Linked DNA regions of Homo sapiens. The protein of the gene in region 2 binds, or shares a complex with, the protein of the main gene of each other region. Each region holds a gene or a part of one and is shown on either strand. Other genes may lie near its edges.

Region 1 (2,798 bases), on a different chromosome or scaffold from region 2:
ACCTCACTTGGCTATTTACTGATTACATCATCTGCATTTATAGCTTAATCATCTGTTAAATTGGGGTTCTCCACGCACACAGGATCATGTGGTTGTGTTTGTATATATTAGGAGATATCTATAACCTGAACATATACATAGAGAGATGGGTTATGCTCCCTGGTTAACTAAAACGTGGAAACTTTCTAAAGATGTGAGAGAGCTCTTAAGGCAATTATAAATAGTCTTTTAAGGAAGATTCATATTGTATGTTCTGTGTTGCAGGCCAAGTGGCATCAGAGCTGAGTGATGGACGACCTGCAGTCCCAGAACCTCTCCATGGACATGACTGACTCCCCTCCTGCCTTGGCTAATAACAGACTGGAGAATGGCATGGCTCAGCTGATCACCACCGAGGCCTGGAACATCAACTCCACTGACCTGGTAAAGAAGGCCCTGGTGACCGTGCCAGCCCCATCCATTCTGAACCCCCCTGCCGAGTCTCAGAGTGGCATGGCTCTGAAGGTGGCGGCCACTGTGTTGCAGCCCCTGTGCCTCGGGGAGAGCCCAGTGGTGATGCCCATTCACATGCAGGTGGAGGGAAGCTCCGCACCAGAGCTCAATCCGAATGGCAATGCCACCTACGTCATGACCACCCAGGGCCCCGTGCAACTGCCCGTGGTGCTGGAGCAGCACGTCTTTCAGCACCTCAACTCCCCTCTGGTCCTGCCGCAGGAGGCCCCATGCTCCTCCAGTACCATCCACAACAACCTCTTCCAGGGAGCGGAGGACCCCGAGGCCCAGCCCCAGCTCCTGGACCTGAGGATCCCCAGCCAGCCGCAGGAGCCCACTTTGCCATTTGAAGCTGTGCTCCAGAATTTGTTTCCCTCCCAGGGCACTCTCGGGCCCCCACCCTGTCAGCCTCCTCCTGGCTATGCCCCTGTGCCCCCACAGCCTTTTAGCTCCCCCTTGTCCCCCCTGGTCCCACCAGCCACCCTCTTGGTGCCGTATCCTGTAATCGTCCCCTTGCCTGTGCCAGTCCCTATTCCCATCCCCATCCCGATGCCTCAGAGTTCTGAATCCAAGTTCAGCTCCAGTTTCCCCAAGCCACCATCTTCCTTCGGCCTGCACCCCTTTAAAGGCACCCAGACCCCTCTGGAAAAAGATGAACTGAAGCCCTTTGACATCCTCCAGCCTAAGGAGTACTTCCAGCTCAGCCGCCACACGGTCATTAAGATGGGAAGTGAGAACGAGGCCCTGGATCTCTCCATGAAGTCAGTGCCCTGGCTCAAGGCTGGTGAAGTCAGTCCCCCAATCTTCCAGGAAGATGCAGCCCTAGACCTGTCAGTGGCAGCCCACCGGAAATCCGAGCCTCCCCCTGAGACACTGTATGACAGTGGTGCATCAGTGGACAGCTCAGGTCACACAGTGATGGAGAAACTTCCCAGTGGCATGGAAATTTCTTTTGCCCCTGCCACGTCCCATGAGGCCCCAGCCATGATGGATAGTCACATCAGCAGCAGTGATGCTGCTACCGAGATGCTCAGCCAGCCCAACCACCCCAGCGGCGAAGTCAAGGCTGAAAATAACATTGAGATGGTGGGCGAGTCCCAGGCGGCCAAGGTCATTGTCTCTGTCGAAGATGCTGTGCCTACCATATTCTGTGGCAAGATCAAAGGCCTCTCAGGGGTGTCCACCAAAAACTTCTCCTTCAAAAGAGAAGACTCCGTGCTTCAGGGCTATGACATCAACAGCCAAGGGGAAGAGTCCATGGGAAATGCAGAGCCCCTTAGGAAACCCATCAAAAACCGGAGCATAAAGTTAAAGAAAGTGAACTCCCAGGAAATACACATGCTCCCAATCAAAAAACAACGGCTGGCCACCTTTTTTCCAAGAAAGTAAATAACGGCTTTTTAAAATTTGTATGATTATAATATGGGGAAAGGTGCATTGGTTTTATAAAAAGGCATTTAAAACAAATTATCTTTGTTAATTATTTTGGGGAGTAGTTGGGAAATGGAAAGGTGAATTGGCTCTAGAGGCCCTGTATGCTAGTATCATTTTCTTTTTTAATTTTTGACTTTTCACAAATGAGTAAATAAGAGCAACCTATTTTTCAAGCAGATTGCACATTTTTTGCAGCTTTAATGGAATATTGGGTGAATTAGAGGGGTAAAAAAAGCTATTTTCATTGCCACAAAGTGCTTTGATGATGTAATACCTAATAAAGGGTAGGATGAATATTTCACAATAAATGTTTGTTTGCACTAATTGGTTGCAGTATTTCATCATTTATAAAATTTACATTCCTTAACTGGCATAATTTGGCCAAAACTCTTGCTTGTGAAAAGCTGTAAGTTATCTGTGATTAGAGACCTAAGCTTTTCAGGCATATTGGAAAATATTGCCCTATGCCCCAGTAAAAGGAGGGTTAGGAATATGGATGACCTTGAGCAAGTCATTTCCCACTTTGGCCTTGGGTTTTTTAAATTTCATTTGTAAAATAAATAAATAAATAAGTGGCAAAGAAAAGGGACAGCGAGGTGAGTTTCAAGTGCCTGAGGCTCCTTCCAGTTCATATAGTTCTTGGGTGTGTAGAATTCTGTGCCTGGACCTTCCATAGTGTAAGACAAGACAAATGTCTCACAACAAAAAAGTAACCTGCTTCCTTCCCACCAACCAAAAGTTTAGTTGGAAATGCCCTTCTTTTCAAGGGCAGTAAGAGCATTGTTCTCAATGATTGAAAATCTTGCAAGTCAGAAGTAGTGGCGCAGGCTAGTGGATCAAGAGATGGCTCATACTTTTTCCCAGCCTTGGAT
Region 2 (7,048 bases):
GAGGCTGTGTGTGCTGTGGCATCCGTGTACGTTATCTGTGTGTGCCTGTGTGAGACCCACGTGTGCTGTGACGTCCGTGCACGTAGGGCACACGCCTGGGACTCCCGGGCCCTGGTGCCTGTGCGCACTCAGTCCTGTCCTGGGTTGGGACCGACACCTGCAGCAGCCCCACCCCGCCCCGGGCCTCTCCTCCTGGGCACAGCTGAAGAGCGGCAGCGCCAGACACAGGGAGGGACACAGGCGTGGAGCTGCGGCCGACGCACCAAGTCCGATGATGCCCAAGGTCTCCCCGCGGATCCTGGCAGCGCCGGACGCCACCTCGCGGATCTGCTCGACGCTCTGGACTCGTGTGCCCTCCCGCAGCGCCTGGTGCAGCCAGGTGGCCCGCCGGTACAGGTTCAGGATGTGGCACAGCGTCGAGTCGGCCGTCTCCTCCACAGACGCCGCGGGCACGTTGCAGACGGCAATGCCTGTGGGGACAAGGACACGGCGGTCACCCCCGGGCCGGGCCCAGCCTCCGGGAGGACACCGGGGCCGCCGTGACTGGAGCGGGTTTGAAGCTTCCCAAGGAAGAAGCCAAAGGCCGTGTCCCCAAGGCCACCCCGGGAGGCCACGAGATGAACACGTTGCTCACAGGTCGGGCGCAACAGAGCAACTCCAGGAGCCCCACCTCCACTTTAGGTTCACGTGGCAGCACACACACGGCAACTGCTCGGTGTGTGGTAGGGCTGGGGTGTGAGACGCTGCCCTGACCCCTCCCGACTCAGCGCTGGCAGCCCAGGAAGAGACAAGCACGTGTCTCCCCGCGTCACCTCGCCACCCCGATTCCTCTCGGGGGTACCCTGCTGGGAGGCTGTGGCCAGGTCAGAATCTGGGTGCCGGCCCCGCCTGCACACCCCTACGTGGACATCCGCACATGTCCTCAGGCCTCCCCCAGGCCCAGCCGGGCCCCGAAGCCCCTTCCGCCCTCCATGCCCCACCCCTGCAGTCGGTAACACTGAAGCTGGAGCCATTCCTGGAAAGCAAGTCCATCCCATTTCTCCCGAGTGGCCAGGCACGCCCATGTGTGACCCCTACTCCCCGCTCCCGGCCTTGTCCCCAGAGACAGGCCCTTCCCCAGCCAGTGCCCCTCCCTGAGCCTATTTACCCTCATCCCTGGCTTGTCCCTGGCCAGGGCCGCCCCTGCACGGCACTTCCCACCCCATCCGGATGATTGCATTCCTGTGTCCGACTGGCCATCCGTCTCCCTGGGGAGGAGGAGGGGGCAGGAGGCCAGGACAGGGCTGCATTCATAGGCCCGGAAGCTGGACAGGACCGTGTGGTTCCGCAAGGGGTCCCGGGGGCCGGGAGAGGGCCTGATGTGGGGCGGCGCAGGCAGGGGCTGCATAGCCCCTAGACACAACTCACTTGGACGTAAAAATGTTAAACAAGGGAGACTGAGGGAGAGCCAAGCCAGGCGCCACACGAGATTGGAACAAAGACCTCCTGAGGGTGGGCCAGATCCCAGGGGTGCCCCAGACCATCCCTGGCTGAAGAACAGAGCCCAGGCCTGGGAAACTCCACGGGTAACAGAGATGGTAAACAGCAGGGACCCCTCAAAAAGCACCAGGCATGCACCCGACACCACACACCCAGGCCTGCACCCGACACCGCAGCCGGCCCTTCCTGGGACGCCACCACAGAGACAAAGGCGGGAGGAGGCTGGCACACAGGTTTGGCCCATGGGCGCCGGCGGAAGCAGCTGAAGCCAGTGCAGGAGACCCCCAGATGGAGGCATGGCTTCCGACACCACCTGCGTCCCCCGCAGGAACACAGACGGTTCCAACTTTGCAATGCCATAAACTGTATCCTAGGAAAAGGGAAGCAAAACCGTGAGGCGCTGGCCAACTGTGGGCAAGGGCAGGGTACAACCTCGCCTGTTACCAGCATCGAGAGGAGGAGAAAAAACAGACCGAGCCTGGCAGAAAACAGAAAGTGCGCTCCAAGCAGGACGGCCAAGCACCGCCCCAAGTTTGTTCTAATGAGTGTCTGTACATGGATGCAGACACATGTGCATGTTCCATGTGCGTGTAGGTGCACGGGTGCAGACGTGCGTGTTCCATGAGTGTTCCATATGCTGAGTGCACAAGCAGAGGTGCATGTGTTCTGTGTGATGAGCATGTGATCCATGTGCTGAGTGCGTGTGCACAGGTGCAGATGAGTGTGCGTGATCCGTGTGCTGAGTGCATGTGCACGGGTGCAGATGAGTGTGTGTGTTCCATGTGCTGAGTGCACATGCACGGCTGCAGATGTGCGTGTTCTGTGTGTGTTCTGTGTGCTGAGTGTGCGTGATCCGTGTGCTGAGTGCGTGTGCACGGGTGCAGATGAGTGTGCAGGATCCGTGTGCTGAGTGCATGTGCACGGGTGCAGATGAGTGTGCGTGTTCCATGTGCTGAGTGCACATGCATGGCTGCAGATGTGCGTGTTCTGTGTGCTGAGTGTGCGTGATCCGTGTGCTGAGTGCATGTGCACGGGTGCAGATGAGTGTGCAAGATCCGTGTGCTAACTGCATGTGCATGGGTGCAGATGAGTGTGCGTGTTCCATGTGCTGAGTGCACATGCACGGATGCAGATGTGCGTGTTCCGTGTGTGTTCTGTGTGCTGAGTGTGCGTGATCCATGTGCTGAGTGCACAGGTGCAGACGTGTGTGTTCTGTGTGCTGAGTGCACACGTACTGGGTTGCAACACGCTGCTGTTCCCGCTGTGTCTCGGGACAGAGACCTATGAGCCCTATTACAGCCATACACTGACGGCCCTGCCCTCACCCCCAGGGTCCCAGTACCCAAGCAAGGGGCACCAGCCAGACATGCATGCAGACCTGTGTGAAGCCACAGCTGGATTTCCTGCTGCCCAAAAGAGAGGAAGTGCCCTGAGATGAGGCTCTGTGAGGAACTGAATGGCTGCAACCTCATGCCGGCCCCAGACGGGACCACGAACCACCGCCAGCCACACCAGGCAATGTGCAACGGGGTCCTCAGTGTGGCAGTGAAGCCTCCATGGACGAAGCAAGACGGGACGGAGCTTGCATGAATGGGCACAGGAGAGAACTCGGAGCCGGCCTACCTAAATCCCCGGCCGACTTGATGTCGATGTTGTCAAAACCACTGCCAATCCGGACGATGATGCGGAGGGCTTTGAACTTCTCCAGGTCCTCCCTGGTGAGAGTGATGGTGTGGTACATCAGGGCCCCCACAGCCTCGTTCAGGACCTGCAGCGAGAAAGCACACAGGCTCAGCCCGGAACCTGAAGACCCTCGGGCTTGGCCTTCGGGGGTGGGGCTGCCCCGGCTGGGAAATTAGCCTGTGGCCCTCAGGCTTGTTCCCCAAGCACCAGCCCGGACACTGGGAGAGGCTACATGAAGGCTTCCCCGCCACGCGCGGCCCCTCAACCTCTGCCCAGGCGTCCTGAGTCCCAGCAATTCCCACCGCAGCCTCCTCAGCCGCATGTAGGCTGCAGGCCGGCACTGGTCAGAGTTGCCCGCTCCCCACTGTGGTGGCTGAGATGTCTCCTTTTGAGCGTGCGCCCCACCGAGACTCTGCTCAGCCTTGTGGAAGAAACGGGGTCCCGCCTGGCGAGGACACAGGAGGGGGGGTGCGGCCACACCCAGGAAGGACACTGAGCAGGTGCAGCTGGGTGGGGTGGCCAGGGAACCTGAGACCTGCAGGCCCGGGGATGCAGGTAGAAAGTGGTAAGTCCCCGCGGCACACAAGCACGTCGGCGGAGGCAGGCAGACGCCACCCAGCCGTAAGGATACATCCACAGGAGCATGCACTGCCCCCGTGTCGCCCAAGAACCTGCCCAGAAATGCTGCCCCTGGCTGGCGAGGCTTGGGTCTGAGCAGTGTTCACAACAGTCACGTTTTTAATTTCAGTGTCCATGACAACTCTTAGACCGGAACAGCTCCCGCGAACAAAGACCTGGCACACAGCACAGCAGCCCAACCCTGGCGCCTCCACTCAGCCAGTACATGGCATCGCTGTGGTCACGGCCAACCCCACCCTGCCAAGGGCTCCCAGTTACCCCCAGCCCAGGGAGGGCAGGGGCAGTGTGGGGTGCAGAGGCACACAGGTGGAGGAAGTGCCCTAGGCCGAAGAACCAGGTGCAGCACTGGGCACAGGGTGGGGATGTGTGTGCACCACCTGCGCATCCACCCACACCCAAACACATCCACCCGCACACGTCCATCCCACACTCCCGTGCATGACAACGCCCACCCACGGGTGCAGAGATGCTCTGTGCGAACAGCCGTGGCTGAGGACACCAGGACATGCAGGCCTCGTCCACATGGGCATGTCCGAGTCCCCGGAGACACCAGTGAGCCTCCCATGTGGACATGACTCCCACCCACCACCTGTCCAGCGGGGCCCCAGGTACTCCTGACGGATCAATGGCGCAGGCTCAGCACAGAGGTTGCCGGGGCCTAGGTGGCGTCTTTCCCTCCCTTCCTGCCGAGCATGGAGCCTGTGGATCCCGGGCGGCAGTGCCTGGGTTGCTGGACCGCAGGGCGTCCTGTGGGAGCTGACCCTGCCTGGGTCCTGGGCAGAGCAGCTGGTGTTGGGCAGGCATACGTGGGCAGGGTGAGGGCAGCCCCCAGGAAGACGCTCACCACCCAGCTGCAACCCCTTCTCCTACAGTGCCCGGACCTCCAGCTTAGCCAGAACAGATGATTCCCTTTGAGGCTGGCACAGCCTCCCTTCCCTCCTGCCCACCGCAGGGGACCTAGAGGAGAGGACCATGGAGGACCACACAGACCAGGGCCACAGCAGAGGCTGGGCAGCAGGGGAGGGGAGCCCTGGGCTAGCCTGGGCATTCTCCAGGAAGAAGGGAAGGTTGGAGCACCTCGGCTGCAGGAGGCAGGGAGGCATCTACCCGGACCACAGAGGAACAGGTGTGTGTAACACTCATCAGTTCATGGACAGGGCTGATGGCTGCCCCGGGCCTCCTGGGAGGGCTTTGAGGCTGCATGCATGCAGACCCCTGGTGCACCAGACGCAGTGTGGACGGGGTGACCCCTGGTGCACCAGATGCAGTGTGGACGGGGTGAACCCTGGTGTACCACACTTGACCAGACGTAGTGTGGACGGGGTGAGGCCACAAGGACAGCATGGGCAGGCAGAGGCCAGCAGTGGGCGACTGGTGCACAGCTGTGGTGGAGGCGAGCGGTGCGGCCAGGAAGACCCCTGCGCTGCGTGGACTGGAGATGGGCGCCCACACACCAAGGAGGTGCTTCGGGCAGCCTGGCAAAGCAGCCGCAGCTAAGAGAGAGTCACCTGCAGATGAAGCTTCGTCGGCACCCACTGTGGGCAGGAGGGGCTGCGCATGCGAGCGGTGGGCAGAGGCGCAGTGGGAGATGGGCCCTGGGGTCAGGGACAGGCCTGGTGCCAGACGTGAGCCCGGGGGGCTGGCCTGGGCAGCTGGATGTGCAGGGGCCACTTCCACAGTGTGTGTGCAGAGGCTCGGCATGGACAGGCTGGACAGACCCACACCACACAGGCTTGTGTGTACGCAGGCAACAGCCTGCTTTCACCCGGAGCACTGGCCACGGGCCTCGAAAAGTCGATTCTGAACCGCGGCACGTCACCTCCCGCACATTCGGAGGAGACAGCGATCAGATTCACGTGAATATGACGAATATTCATCCGCGCAGCCTTAAGGTTGCTTCCTGCATCGGCTCTTCCGTGATGAAAATCTATCTCATCTAGGTAAGCTCGGAGAAGCCGAAGCGTGCGCCGGCCAAGGGCCCTCCTTTGGGCTCCGGGCGCGCCCACCCAGCTGAGCTGTGAAGCGCAAGCTGCCTCCCCGACGAGGCTTTCATCACTTGCCTGTGCACGATTCTTAATACACTTTTTTCAGGTCCTTGCCCTTTTCCCTACTGAATACAGGTTTAACAACATAGTATTAGGTGAAAGCATTCTCACTACAGGAATCTGAACATGGCTGGGGCACCCCATGCCCCGACCTCCACCACGTACCAGGTTGGCCTGTGCTCAGCTGCAGGGCCACAGCTGCTAGCATGTGCGCTTTACCACGTGGCGGCCACGTCATCCACAGGTCCACAGGCCAGGGTGCCACAGCGGCTCAGCCTCAGGGTCTACCTTCCTTTCCCCCTCGTGGCTGCCACGTGGCTGCTCCACCCCGCCTGTTGCATTGGTCTCCCACGGAGAAAGTCTGCAGGAGGTGGGTGCAGCCAGGTGTGTCCCTTTAGATCGGGGCCCAGCAGCCTCCCAGAAACCACCTCAAGCCAACACCCACTGATGTGTCCCCTCCACCGCCAGGGGCTCAGCCCCACTCTGCTCAGTGCCCTCAACTCCAGTGCTCAGAGCAGGCTGGGGAAAGCTGGGTGCCCAGGAAGCTCGGCTGCCACCGGGCTGGAAACAGACCCCAGGACGCTCCTGGTGGCAGCTGGCTCTTGGGGGTCAGGAAGGGGCCCGCCAAGCCCACCTCCTGCCATGCAGTTCTGCCACCTGCTTCTGTGCTCAGGACTCGACGTCGCACTTACCTTTCCAGACCTCGTGCACAGGGGTGGCTTACTCTGTGAAACTGCTGCTCACATCAGGTCACCATCAGGGCAGATGTTTCTCTACGACACGCAGCCACATGCAGGCCCAGGGTGGGGCTGGGCTGAAGACCGCAGGTTTCAGATTTCCAGAGAAACTGCCAAAGCACCATCGAGACCGGCACGGCCGTTTCTATCCCACATGAAGGGCCAGGCCCAGGCTCCCTCAGCACGGCTGGTGCAGGGCTCAGCGCAGGCCAGGCCAGGGGTTACCGGCGGTGCCTGCTGCACCTGTGAGAACCCAGGAGGCGCACCCCGGTTCTCATACACCGCTCTGTCTGTACCAAACGCCACCGCCCTCATCCATTTTCTGTCGGGATTTTTCTGTTTCTACTGATTGGGAGGAGTCTTTGAATATATAAACTTTTTCATTTACTTATTTTACAGACAGGACCTCGCTGGACTGCAGTGGTGTAATCATGACTCGCTGCAGCCTTGACCTCCTAGGCTGAA

The links. Proteins that work in one complex are often made in the same cells at the same time.
Region 1: the proteins of CTBP1 (region 2) and RAI2 are in contact, whole or in part, in a cryo-EM structure (PDB 8ARI), measured with the Homo sapiens proteins. Residues at the interface, in NP_001319.1 of Homo sapiens: Arg36, Cys38, Met42, Val51, Ala52, Phe53, Cys54, Asp55, Gln57, Gln60, Glu61, His63, Val66; in NP_001166210.2 of Homo sapiens: Glu315, Ala316, Leu317, Asp318, Leu319, Ser320, Met321, Lys322, Trp326.

The regions. Positions count from the first base shown.
Region 1 is NC_000023.11:17,799,501-17,802,298, reverse strand, and holds the end of RAI2 (retinoic acid-induced protein 2), read left to right. Parts: intron 1-264; 5' UTR 265-288; coding exon 289-1,881; 3' UTR 1,882-2,250; downstream 2,251-2,798.
Region 2 is NC_000004.12:1,225,097-1,232,144, forward strand, and holds part of CTBP1 (C-terminal-binding protein 1), read right to left. Parts: exon of another isoform or gene 6,012-7,048; intron 3,248-6,011; coding exon 3,103-3,247; intron 471-3,102; coding exon 264-470; intron 1-263. UniProt on the Homo sapiens protein: Corepressor targeting diverse transcription regulators such as GLIS2 or BCL6. Has dehydrogenase activity. Involved in controlling the equilibrium between tubular and stacked structures in the Golgi complex.